Homo sapiens: one gene and its partners. The protein of the gene in region 3 interacts with the protein of the main gene of each other region in a biochemical or structural test. Each region holds a gene or a part of one and is shown on either strand. Other genes may lie near its edges.

What was found. Proteins that work in one complex are often made in the same cells at the same time.
Region 1: the proteins of ESR1 (region 3) and GRIP1 form a complex in vitro, tested with the Homo sapiens proteins (2 studies listed by BioGRID and IntAct).
Region 2: the proteins of ESR1 (region 3) and NCOA7 form a complex in vitro, tested with the Homo sapiens proteins (2 studies listed by BioGRID).
Region 4: the proteins of ESR1 (region 3) and TBP form a complex in vitro, tested with the Homo sapiens proteins (2 studies listed by BioGRID).

The regions. Positions count from the first base shown.
Region 1 is NC_000012.12:66,389,077-66,392,576, reverse strand, and holds part of GRIP1 (glutamate receptor-interacting protein 1), read left to right. Parts: intron 1-74; coding exon 75-269; intron 270-3,500. UniProt on the Homo sapiens protein: May play a role as a localized scaffold for the assembly of a multiprotein signaling complex and as mediator of the trafficking of its binding partners at specific subcellular location in neurons.
Region 2 is NC_000006.12:125,929,747-125,932,534, reverse strand, and holds the end of NCOA7 (nuclear receptor coactivator 7), read right to left. Parts: 3' UTR 501-2,788; downstream 1-500. UniProt on the Homo sapiens protein: Enhances the transcriptional activities of several nuclear receptors. Involved in the coactivation of different nuclear receptors, such as ESR1, THRB, PPARG and RARA.
Region 3 is NC_000006.12:152,100,728-152,103,774, reverse strand, and holds the end of ESR1 (estrogen receptor), read right to left. Parts: 3' UTR 501-3,047; downstream 1-500.
Region 4 is NC_000006.12:170,560,869-170,564,368, forward strand, and holds part of TBP (TATA-box-binding protein), read left to right. Parts: intron 1-922; coding exon 923-1,365; intron 1,366-3,500. UniProt on the Homo sapiens protein: The TFIID basal transcription factor complex plays a major role in the initiation of RNA polymerase II (Pol II)-dependent transcription.

The sequences.
Region 1 (3,500 bases), on a different chromosome or scaffold from region 3:
CTAGCCACGGAGTATCTTGGTATATTTTTATTTAAATTTACTCTGATACTTAAACTCCTTTCCTGTCTATAAAGCCCAGTCAGCATCGAGCCCCAAGAAGTTCCCTATTTCTAGCCATTTGAGTGACCTGGGGGATGTGGAGGAGGACTCCTCACCAGCACAGAAGCCAGGCAAGCTCTCCGACATGTACCCCTCCACGGTGCCCAGTGTGGACAGTGCTGTGGATTCATGGGATGGGTCTGCAATAGACACCAGCTATGGAACTCAAGGTATGTCTTTACTTTGTCCCCCAGAGGACTTGTCATTGTTGAAGCCCATGCTTCTCCAAGATTCATCCTCTGCTCCATGAGGAGAATATCTTTCTTTAACTTGTGTCTGCTTTGGTGCAGCCATAATCATATTGAACACATTGAATACTTACACTCTGCTGGCCATGCATTTTCTTCTAGTGCTTATAAGGCATGAACCTTTACCAAACACTAACAGGCCTCCATTAGGTCTACTGATGGCCAAGTATCCCATCCAGGGCTTGTCCTTCAAGCTTAGATTAATGTGAGGCAAACCATACAATAAAGTGGCTCGTTCAATACAGGCCCCATTGCCTTATTTTTCAGCAAGCTTTCCACAAAGATGGATTGGGGAGTTTGGAAGAGGTGCATAAGAGATTAGCCAATGATTTGTGACTCTATTTATTCCTGCACACTCCTGACTTTTTTTTTTCTTTTAGAGACTGGGTCTCACTCTGTCACCCCAGCTAGAATACCCTGGCACCATCATAGTTCATTATAGTCTCAAACTCCTGGACTCAAGGGATCTTGCTGCCTCAGTCTCCTCAGTAGCTGAGACTATGTGCACACACCACCACACCCAGCTGATTTTTAAATTTTTGTAGATACGGGGTCTTGTCATGTTCTCCAGGCTGGTATCAAACTTCTGGCCTCCAGCAATCCTCCCATCTTGGCCTCCCAAAGTGCTAGGATAATAGGCATGAGCCACCATGCCCTTTCCCTGAATGTTTATAATTAGAGCACTATAATCACAATATAGGAAAGTATAGAGTAGATTTTTCTTCATAGGTGTCATCGTCATGTGAAGAAATACTATCTACATTAAAAAGCCTCACTCATGGAATATAAACACATAAAAGGTGTCAGACTGAATACAGAGCATAAACTAATAGCTTCTTTTAAAAAATATTTTCTTCCCAGTGATCCGTAGCATCAACAAGAGAAGTATGTCAAAACTTCTTGGTATTTCTCCTCATCTGAGCCTTACCTTCTCTCATGTTCTATGTAAATTCCAGCCTCTGAATCCCTTGTTTGCTCTGGGTTTCAGTCAGTCAAATAATAAAACACATAAACAGTTTAGAGAACACATTGGTGTGAGGGCTGCTTTGTCACTGAGTTAACTGTACTTTTTAGGAGTGTCTGTATCCAGTTTGCTCTCTCCTGGTTTTCCTAGTTTCCTTCTCTCAGCCTGCCTATGTTGTGTCACTCTCTGTTAAGTCCTCTGGTGAACAAAAAACAAAAATGGAAGGGAGAAAAAACTGGAAAAAAAAATGAAAGGAGATGATATTTCAAAGTTGTCAAGTTGTTACTTTCATTAGAGATGATACTGGAGTTAGGTGGGGAAAATACTTTGAACACCTAAGTAGAATTGGGGCTTTATCTGGCAATTAATTTTTCCAAGTCATAATACCTTGTGACAAGTTCACCTATGCCACCAAATAACAGACCTTCTGATTGCCTGAGAATTGATGGGCCACCAGAAGACACTGAGTAAAGGACAGAAGTCACATTCTATCAGAGTAGACTCAGGTTTATTTATCAATTTATTGTGTATTGGTTATTTATTTGTGTATTTTTTGTGTATTGCTTATTAATGTAGAGATATTTTTGTTACCAGAGATTTTTGTGAGGGTGCTATTGATATTAATTAGTTCTTCCCTGTAAGGTGATCTGTAAGACCTTAGCTACTCCATCCCTTGAAACCACAGACACAGGACCATGAGAAGCAAACTGAATATAGGACCTGCCCCTCACTAGTAAAAGATGAAAAACCATTTACTATTTGTGAAGCATTTTGAAATTTTGAATCATAGTCATAATATTACATTTTGCATTTATAATTTAGACATTTTTATGAGGTTGAAGGGAACTGAGGGATAAGTAGAGACAATGGCAATCAGGATAGAATCGAAGTACTCCAAGGTAATGAAAAAATAGTAATAACCCTTTATATATATAGAACACTCTAGAGTTTACAAAGCACTTTCACATAACTAATCCCCATTAATTCTTGTGACGAACATGGGAGCTGAAGGCAGGATTTCAGGTTTGGAAAGGGTTTAGGAGTCAGCTAGTCTGATGTCCAGTGCAGCCCTTGGTGCCAGGTCCTGCCTCACTGCACGCCAAGACACGCTGCATGGACTTGAATGCCCAAGGTGACAGGTTGTTCCTTGTGCTGAGGCAGCCCCCCATCTCCACGTAGCTCTGATGACTCTAAAGCTCTCACTTGTATTGAGCTGCAGTATGCCTAATAGTCCCGGCTATACCCTCAAGGTCATTCTGCACTAGACTAAAGCCTCTTCTCCTGACAGCCCCTTAGATACTCGAAGACAGCTATTGGGTCTCTGTTGAGGCTTTCCTTCTCCAAGCAAAATAGCCCCAGTTCCTTTAACTGTGTCTTCTATAATTTACTGACGAGTATCTGTATCGTCCTGTGGACCTCCCTTACGAATGTGCTTCAGTTTACCTGTGTACCCGTTAAAGTGTAACATTCAGAAAGGAAAATCACACAACAGCCCGACAGCCCGGAGCAAAGCAAGCTGGTCACTGGCATCATTGAAGACAGGAGAACTGATCAATGACACCTACCTCAACATAAGAATTTTAGTGGTCATGGCACATCTGTCACTCATTTTGCGCTTACAGTTTACCGAGATCTCAAAGTCTTGTGAATGTGTTTTTTTTTCTTTACCCGTGATATTCAGTTAAACTGCATCTCTCCAGATTGTGCTTGTGAGGTTGACTTTTTAAAAGCAAGGCACAGCTGGGTGCAGTGGCTCAGGCCTATATTCCCAGCACTTTGGGAGGCTGAGGTGGGCAAATCACCTGAGGTCAGGAGTTCAAGACCAGCCTGAGCAACGTGGCGAAACCCCATCTCTACTAAAAATACAAAAACTAGCCAGGCGTGGTGGCACACACCTGTAATCCCAGCTACTCGGGAGGCTGAGGCAGGAGAATCGCTTGAACCAGGAGGCGGAGATTGCAGTGAGCCAAGATCATGCCACTGCACTCCAGCCTGGGCAATAGAACAAGACTACGTCTCAAAAAAAATTAAAACAAAAATAAAAGCAAGGCATAGAACCACACTTTTATTTTTCCTATTCAATATTATGTTGTGAGATACAGCTTATCTCTCCAACCTGTCCCTCCAGCCTCTCAGCAGGCTCTCTGCCTTGTTCCAGGAAGCCCCTGCACATTCTCTCTGTTCCCTTT
Region 2 (2,788 bases), about 26 Mb from region 3:
ATTTTTATTCTGAACCACTAGAGATTTGAAATAGAAAGGGAATAAGATCTTAAGAGTTTGGTGTGAAGAATGAAGCTTATTTTTTTTTCAGTAAAAACACCTTCTGTTAGGGGCTCACTATGGATAATGGTCATAGGCCAGGAGGTGACAGAGAATGTGATGCTTTGAAGTCAGGGCTTTCTCTGATTAAGAGTAAGTGACCTCATTGGGCAGAAGGAAGTGGTCAAAGGCACTTTTGATACATGCACAAGAAATGAGTGTGGCTTCCCTTGAGTTTTCTGGAATTTCCCTTGGTTTCTGACCTCCTTACCTTTCTGTATCGAATTAAATTGGTAAAAATAGGTTAGGCATCCTAAGAAAAACATGAAACGTAACACTCCTTTCTGGCTTAAGAGATTCTCAATGGCTTCCTCAAAAGGAGAGTAATTCTTTCATTAATGCTGTTTCATGTGTGTATTAGTCCATTTTCACACTACTATAAAGAACTACCTGAGACTGGGTTATTTATAAAGAAAAGAGGTTTAATGGACTCACAGTTTCACATGGCTGGGTAGGCGTCAGGAAATTTACAATCATGGCAGAAGGCAAAGGGGAAGCAAGGCACATCTTACATGGCAGCAGAAGAGAGGGTGAGGGTGGAACTGCCAAACATTTTAAAACAGATCTCATGAAAACTCCCTCACTATCATGAGAACAGCATGGGGGAAACCGCCCCCATGTTCTAATCACATCCCACTAGGTCCCTCCCTCAACATGTGGGGATTATAATTCCAATGAGATGTTGGTGGGGACACACAGCCAAACCATATCAATGTGTCTCTAAAACTTTAAAAGGCATCAAGGAGAGGGAGATCAAATTAAGGGAAGACATACTTATAATAGTGCAGGATGTCTCTGGTGGCTTGTAGCACGGGGATGCATCTAATCATTTTCAGTAGAGTCTGAAGAAACATTTGGTTGCCTCCTCCCACCCAAGTCCTTTGATATGGACTTATGAACTGAGGAATTATGAAGCAATGAAGACTGCTTGGGGTCTTCATCTAGCCCAACATCTAGGGGCTAGGTGTCAGGATGCCAAAGAAAATTTATCAGAGAGTAAAGTGTCCCTTACGGAAATTATGAAGTAGGTTAAGACAGATGTTAAGAGGAGGAGGTTGTCATTCATTGCACAGCTAGAAAGATTAGAAGAGACTGGTAGATACAGCCAAGAGTTGTCTCTGGTAACCATAATGAGAGCAGTTTCCGTGAACTGATGAGACAATTAGGAGGGTGGCTACAGGGAATGAAGAGGGAGTTTCCAGGGCAGCAGTGAAAACATGAGCTCTGGACCTTGTTTAGTCTTGGATATTTCACCATCCTCTCACAAAAATAAACACTCTGGTACCCAGTAAATACCTGATGAATGAATCTTTGGGAAAGAAAATCACTGAATGCATAAAGTCCTTTATTGAAAATATTGGGATAGCACTGCATTACATATAGTCAATATCCATAAATGAAGGGTCACACATTTCTGAATGGACAATACTGTTTTACATAGAGAACACAGCATCTGGATATGCTCTCACAATTATAGTATCATGGACTAAACTAGGTCAGAGTGAAGTATATGCAAAATGACCATTTTGTTTTTTTCCATTTTATTAATAGCATATGGTTGCAGATGGTGTAAATGGTAAACGTGATATCATGAGACATTCCTGATATCTCACACCAACACATTATTTAACGAGCAGGTTAAGGTGAAACTGCCAGTATGCTGTTAGTCAAGAGTCCTCAGTAGGAGAACTTGAGTGAAACGTACACCCAGGCTACAGATTTAAAATTTTATAGCATTCATTTAAATTTGCATGGAATTAAGGAGTATAATAATTGTTGATCTGACAGGAGGCCACTGGACAATTTGTTCTCTTTCACAAAATGTCTAAAATAGGAGAATAATGTAAAGGAAGTATTCTAAGAATTGCTTTTTTAAATGCAGATATGTAAATAGTACTTGTTATACATTTTTCCTTTCAAAAATTACCGGGGAAATAATTTATGACAGACCATTTTTCAGCTTTGGTTATTATTTGAAATTTTTTCCTACTAGCAAGCAGTCTTTGGCTTTCATAAAAGTCTGGTAATCAATAATATTGGTTAAGTAAGTCTTTATTATTATTATTATTGTTATTATTTTTAAGACAGAGTCTCGCTGTTACCCAGGATAGAGTGCAGTGGCACGATCTTGGCTCACTACAACCTCTGCTTCCCGGATTCAAGCAATTCTCCTGCCTCAGCCTCCCGAGTAGGTGGGATTACAGGTGCCCGCCACATAGTCGGCTAATATTTGTACTTTTAGTAGAGATGGGGTTTCACCATGTTGGCCAGACTGGTCTCAAACTTGTGACCTTGAGTGATCCACCTGCCTCGGCCTCCCAAAGTGCTGGGATTACAGGCAAGAGCCACTATGCCTGGACCTTTATTTTATGTAATAGATGTTTTATGATGTGAAAATAGGTTGATATCTTAAAAATAGGTTTTCCTTTCTATTCCAATTTTGATATGAATGCATTTCTTTGTATTGTTTTTTTCTCAAATAAATGAATCAAGAAACCAAGACAATTGGTCCAATTTGACGTTTTTCATTTGATTTAAAAAATGCAGAAATTAATATACTGAGTCCCTTTTAAGACAGAGGCCTGCTCGTTAATGTAAAAGCTTGGAAAAGTTATACAAAGAACACTCCGAAAATAAAGTTTTTGTTATTAACACAAATGATTTTGTAAGAAGCAAAACATTTTTTTTC
Region 3 (3,047 bases):
ACCTTCAGAATGAGGGAGAGGTTTTTAAGCTAATTATATCATTTCAGATCACTCATTCTTCCATTCACTCATTCATTCATAAATAACCACTCTCAAGCATCCTTCTTCTCCCTCACAGGGAAGGATTTGGGCCAGGCATTAAAAAACAGCAACTATGTTTAATGAGCACCTCAGTTAGTCCTCACCACCATCGTGTGAATTAGGTGTTATTACTTATCATCATATTGTTGATAAGGAAGCCGAAACTCTGAAAAATCAACTGCCAATGATCATAAAATTTGTAAGTGGTGAAGCCAAGAATTGAGGCCAGTTCTGCCTGACCACAGTGTCCACACACTTCCTGATACACCTGGGGGTGTTGGGCAGAGGGAGTGAGGTGAGGAGAGGCTTTAGCATTCAGACTCACTGTGTGTGACAGATCGTTTAACCACTTTGATTTTAGAGGATCAGTGGTGAACTGCTAGCAAGAAGTGGAGCTTACAAAAAACAAACTCGTTGTCTTTAGTTTAATTCTTTATTTGAACATCAAATAGGTTGAGAAAATTGTTTACAGGTGCTCGAGCATCCCGCTGGATTCTTTTTCAAAGTGCAAAAGAGGTTTACAAGTGTGTTTCATTAAACAAAGCAAAGCTGCGACAAAACCGAGTCACATCAGTAATAGTATGCATCGGCAAAAGGGCATATTAATCCATCAAACACAATTTGGCATTTGAGCCTTTTCCCATAAAACAAGAGCTCTACACTGAAGAGTATGTAGTGCACAAAAAGCATTGTTTATCACCTGTGAGAGAACAGAAACTGGCATAATGTCACTTATTAATTCAAGTCTCTATAACCAATGACCTCTCTGTGAATGCAAAGGGGTCTGTGTCTCAGGCACCTGCTCATGGGACAATATGTTGTTTCTAGGGTGCACAGCTCTAAACACACACACTGACGATGGGTTTGGAACATGGCAGCATTTACATATTTTAAAAGTTCAGGCACAATTGGATGCAAAAAAAAGAATAGAAATTTTTCTTGAATCTCAAAAGACAGTGCAAAATTGAAGTGCCATAATAGAGGCAGCAATTACTTAGAAAACAATTTTAAATGACTAAAAACGAGGCCACACTTTAATTCAATTGGAAAGGAAATGCAGTTGGAAACAGAGCATAATTAACGCTACTGAAAAGATGGATATTTGGGACCAAAGTTCATTTGCTCCAGTTGAGAGTAAGTTTTCAGGGGATTAACTTGGGAATGGTGCAGTGTAATCTAGATCACGCTCCCAAGACCTGCACCAAAGAGAATTATGGTTGCCTTTTGAGCTACTGTATGACTCTATTTGCCTTTCACATAACTAGCTTCCCCAAGCAGATCTGCCTGTGAATATTAGACATTACTATGGTGTTAGTGATCACTCCCAGTACCCACAGTCCATCTCATAATTGGAAAGTATGAATAGGAAAGTATTTGTAATCAGTGTCATGCAGGGGAAGGAGTACTCTAAGCCAGTGGCCTAAATCAATGGCCATTTCAGTGTATAAGATTTCAAGGTGAGAACACCTTAATGTGATCAAAAGTAAATTATCAGTAAGTCCCTTATTTGTTCAGCCCTCAAAAGGCATGGGCTATGGCTTGGTTAAACATATCTGCAAGGTTACTAGGGAAATCAAATCAAAGACTGCACTTCCTTAGGGGTTAGATTTTGCAACCTACATTGATAGGGTCTTCTCTTTGGATGACCTAGCCTCTCATAATTGCTGCATGATGGCATTATAGAATCATTACGGCAAGCTAGGCAATGGCGAAAAGAAACACAGACCACTAGCTATTCCATGGACTTTACTGCTGATGTTGTTCTTTCTTCTCTAGAACTGAAGCTGCCATTTTAGAAATGGCTGTAAATGGAGCTAGTTGATTTGTGGTCTCCAGGGCAGAAGTGGACTCTACTGAACCCTGGTGCACACCCAGAATTAACCATTTTCCTCCAAATACTTTCAATACTCTTCTTAATATATTTGCCATTCCCCAGATTCCTGAATCCACTTCCCCACCATACCTGAGCCCCCCAGATAAATCACATCTTTTACATTTTAACTTGCCTCAGAGTGGGGGAAAGCAGAGGCAAGAGTTTTTTTTTAAATCATGTTCCTACACCCAATACCAACATCAGCCAGAAAATATCTGCTGTCCATTAGTGGCACTTCAAGTAAAAATACAAAGAGATTTCCAAAGTTGCTGGAGACCCCTGGGCGAACATTTCAATCATCTGATGTTCTCTGCCCACTTCAAATGTAGTAGTATCTTAACATGAATAGAAACACATTGGATGAATAATGTAAAACCTTCCACTGTATAATTGTTTGGCTTTAGCTGGTATTACATCGTCTAGTCCTAGAAATTTTTTTTTGTTTTATTTTAATTTTTTTAAAAGAAAATCTAAGTATAAACATTAAAAAGAACCCACTGACCCATTAGCTACTGTCCAAAAATATTACTACTGATATTTTGGTAAAAGCAAAATTAGCTGCCCTGAATAATTTTCCTTTTCAGGCATAATCTTTGCTACATAAGATTGTCTGTCATTCAGTATCCAACAATAGGCATCTGGATTAGTGCTATTTTGTCTACTGTGGATACAAAAGTTGATATGAAATGTGATCTTCATTTAAATGAATAATCACCAGGCTTTAGGCATAAATGACTGTATACATGACAAGGTAGCTTGAAAAGTATACAAAAAAAAAAAAAAAAACTAAATATTTTTCCTTGGTTTTTGCATGTTAACCCAGTCAAATTAAATCCAGAACAGAATTACTACATTCAATTGTCTGATAAACAAGCAATGTAATTTCAAAAAAATATATATTATACTATATAAGGTGCTTCTTAAACAAACTAAGGTGCTTCTTAAACAAACAGCAACAAAAGAATTATGTTCTTAAACATATCCTTAACACAGATACATAAAATTGTCCCCAAATTTAAGTGCACATAAAAACTTTTTTTTTTTTTTTGCCCTCCCAGATTCTCAGTCCTTTGGTGATCACTTAACTGGACAA
Region 4 (3,500 bases), about 18 Mb from region 3:
ACTGATGACTTTAGAATATTACATAAACTTAGTTGATAAAGCAGCAGCAGGGTTTGAGAGGATTGACTCCAATTTTGAAATAAGTTCTAGTGTGGGTAAAATGCTGTCAAATAGTATCATATGCTACAGAGACATCTTCAGTGAAAGGAAGAGTCAGTCAGTGTGGCAAACTTCGTCAGTCTTATTTTAAGAAATTGCCACAGCTACCACCCTGATCAGTCAGCAGCCATCAACATCGAGGCAAGATCCTCTGTCAGCAAAAAGATTATGATTTGCTGCAGGCTCACATGATTGTTAGCATTTTTAGCAATAAAGCATTTTTAAATTAAGTTATATACATATTATTAGACATAATGCTATTGCACACTTAATAGACTTTAGTGCTAACATAACTTTTGTAGGCACTGGGAAACCAAAAAATTGATGCCGCTTGCTTTATTGAGATGGTCTGGAACCTAACCTGTAGTATCTCCGAGGTATGCCTGTATCTTCATTTGTAATATGTCCTTCACATCTTTTGCCCTTTTTTATTATTTTATTTGTTGATCTTCTTTTATGGAGTTGTCAGAGCTCTTTATTATTCTGTTTACCAGTCCTTTCTCAGATGTATGTATTATAGTTATTTTTTTCCCAGTCTGGCCTGCCTTTTAATTTTCTCAATGGTGTCTTTCAAAGAACAGAAGTTTTTAATTTTTCCGAAGTTCAGTTTATCCATTTTTCTTCATGTTTATCCACTGTGTGGTATTAAAGAAGAAAGCAATGTGTATAAGAATAGCTGGTTCTTCCGTAATTAATGTTTAATAACCCCATTATTCTCCGAAGGCATCTGTCTTTGCACACCTGACCTGCTGTTCCACCAAGAAAGTTCCACAAACACTTAGCAGCAGCCAGCCTAACCTGTTTTTCTCCTTGCTTTCCACAGGGTGCCATGACTCCCGGAATCCCTATCTTTAGTCCAATGATGCCTTATGGCACTGGACTGACCCCACAGCCTATTCAGAACACCAATAGTCTGTCTATTTTGGAAGAGCAACAAAGGCAGCAGCAGCAACAACAACAGCAGCAGCAGCAGCAGCAGCAGCAACAGCAACAGCAGCAGCAGCAGCAGCAGCAGCAGCAGCAGCAGCAGCAGCAGCAGCAGCAGCAGCAACAGGCAGTGGCAGCTGCAGCCGTTCAGCAGTCAACGTCCCAGCAGGCAACACAGGGAACCTCAGGCCAGGCACCACAGCTCTTCCACTCACAGACTCTCACAACTGCACCCTTGCCGGGCACCACTCCACTGTATCCCTCCCCCATGACTCCCATGACCCCCATCACTCCTGCCACGCCAGCTTCGGAGAGTTCTGGGATTGTACCGCAGCTGCAGTGAGTACTTCGTGTTTTATGTTTCCTCCCACTTAGGAGTCCCTTTGAGTTATGTTCCTGCTCTGTTTTCAGATGGATCCTTTTATTAAGGGAGGGAGTGGCACTAACGGTAATTGTGTATCAAAATTTGCTTTATCTCACATTTGGGAAAGGGAAGCAAAGCTATCTTAGTCAGTGTCCTCAGTAAAAGGCTCTTAACAGGTTTAGAAATGTGGTCATTTGTGTTTACATACCTGAGCCAATAAAATTTAATCTGACTTTCACTGTCGTTATTATTATATTATAGACATTTCCCTGTATCTGATATCGCTAAATCACAATGTTAGGTAGTCTCTTTCCCTTATGCTATTTTAGGTCTTTAGTCACAATATCAGTATAATTTCTGGTAGTTCTTGTTTTTTGTTTTTACTATGGGTGCTGCATATAAATCTTTGAAGGTCTGTGTCCTTCCCACAAAATGAAGACGACTGTTTTTGTCATAAATGGATTTTTCTACCTAAATGAAGTGGGTTCTATATGTAACAGTGTAGTAGGGGTAGGAAATAATTTCATCTTCCTGAAAAACCAGCAAATATTTCCAAATAATTCCAGTCAATAAGAAGTGTATAGCTTTTCATTTTAGAAAGCTTATGACCAAATTAAAAGGTTACTTGCAGTCTCTGCATCTCCTCAGTTTTCTTGTACAGATACCTTCCTCCTTCATACTCCCTTTAGATCTAGTATTTCCTATTTGCATTTATTCACCTTGTTACATATATGGTTGTTGTTTATAAGCTATCTCTCATCATTTTTGGAACTAAGTGGTGTGTAATCGTGGATGCTGACTTTCACCCAAAGACCTAAATCTTGCCTCCACAATTTTGTTTGACCCCACACACAATTTTAAAAACAAAGTAATTTTAGTGATTTTAGAGAGAGCCCTTTTTAGCTCACCCTTGTCTATACCACTCCCATGTGTCCAGCATGCTTGTCTGACTCCCAGGAATATTTAAGTTTGCATTTCTGATTTAAATAATAAATTATAAACAGTACAGTCAGGTGTTTGTTTCTTGCGAGTGCCTTTGCTGTTCTGATACTCCCCAGAGCATCCAGTCATCCACATTCCTGAATTTCCACTATCTACTAAGAACCCTCCCGGGTGGTAGTTCAGTGCCCTCTCCATCTTGTAGGCTTAAGAGGGATTAAGGTAAATATTTAATTAATGAAAATATATAAGAATACATTTAACAATTATGTGACTAAAGTTGTGATAGATATACTAAAATCTACTTGGTATAGTTCATAAGTGGACAAATGCTAAAGGCAGGTGTGTATACAAGGGTGATTGGAAGGAAATAGATGATATGGAAATGAAAACATTCATTGTGTGGATCAACCTAATTGGCTTTACAGTTGTGTATCATAGACTGTACAAGAAAAAGAACCAGAAGCAACAATGAGCTGAAACCTATTGTATTTGAACCTATGTATTTGAAATCTGGACTCGATATTCTTGGGATGGTGATTTCCAGGTCCATGCGAGACAGTTGTTGAGCAGTTAATTGCATTCAAAGGGCATTGCCCATTTCAACTATATATACTTTCATAAGCAGAAAAATGTATAATGAAAATGTGGGTTTGTTGTTTAAATTTTTATTAAAATTTCTAATAGAGTTGCTTTTTAGTATATCTTTATCCTTGTATAAGTTATTCGTTAAGTGATTTAAGAACACTGAGAAATGAAAAGGGTCAGTGGACCCAGATGGCTCCATTTATCCTTATTTACTGAGAGTTAATTAGAAGAGAAAGCAGGGTTTTGCCTTTTTTTTTTGCTAAAGACACTTAGCTCTTGTTTTTCAAAAGATACTTACTTTGAGAGAACTGGGCAGTTCATGCCTGCTTGTTTTCATTATAAATAGTTACTTAGGAATAGGGTGGTGGTGGTAGCTTTTCAGAGCTCACAGATGAGAATTGAGTTTGTCTGTGAGAAGGCTAAGGGCAGGCTCTGGAGACAGACAGACTCAAATCCTGGCTCCTCCACTTGGGAGCCATTGCGTCCTGAGCAAGTTGCACTCTACCTTTAAGCCTCAGCTTATTTATCCAAATGTGGGAATACTGGTAACTTCTACCTCAGTGCGTTATATGTATTAAATGGA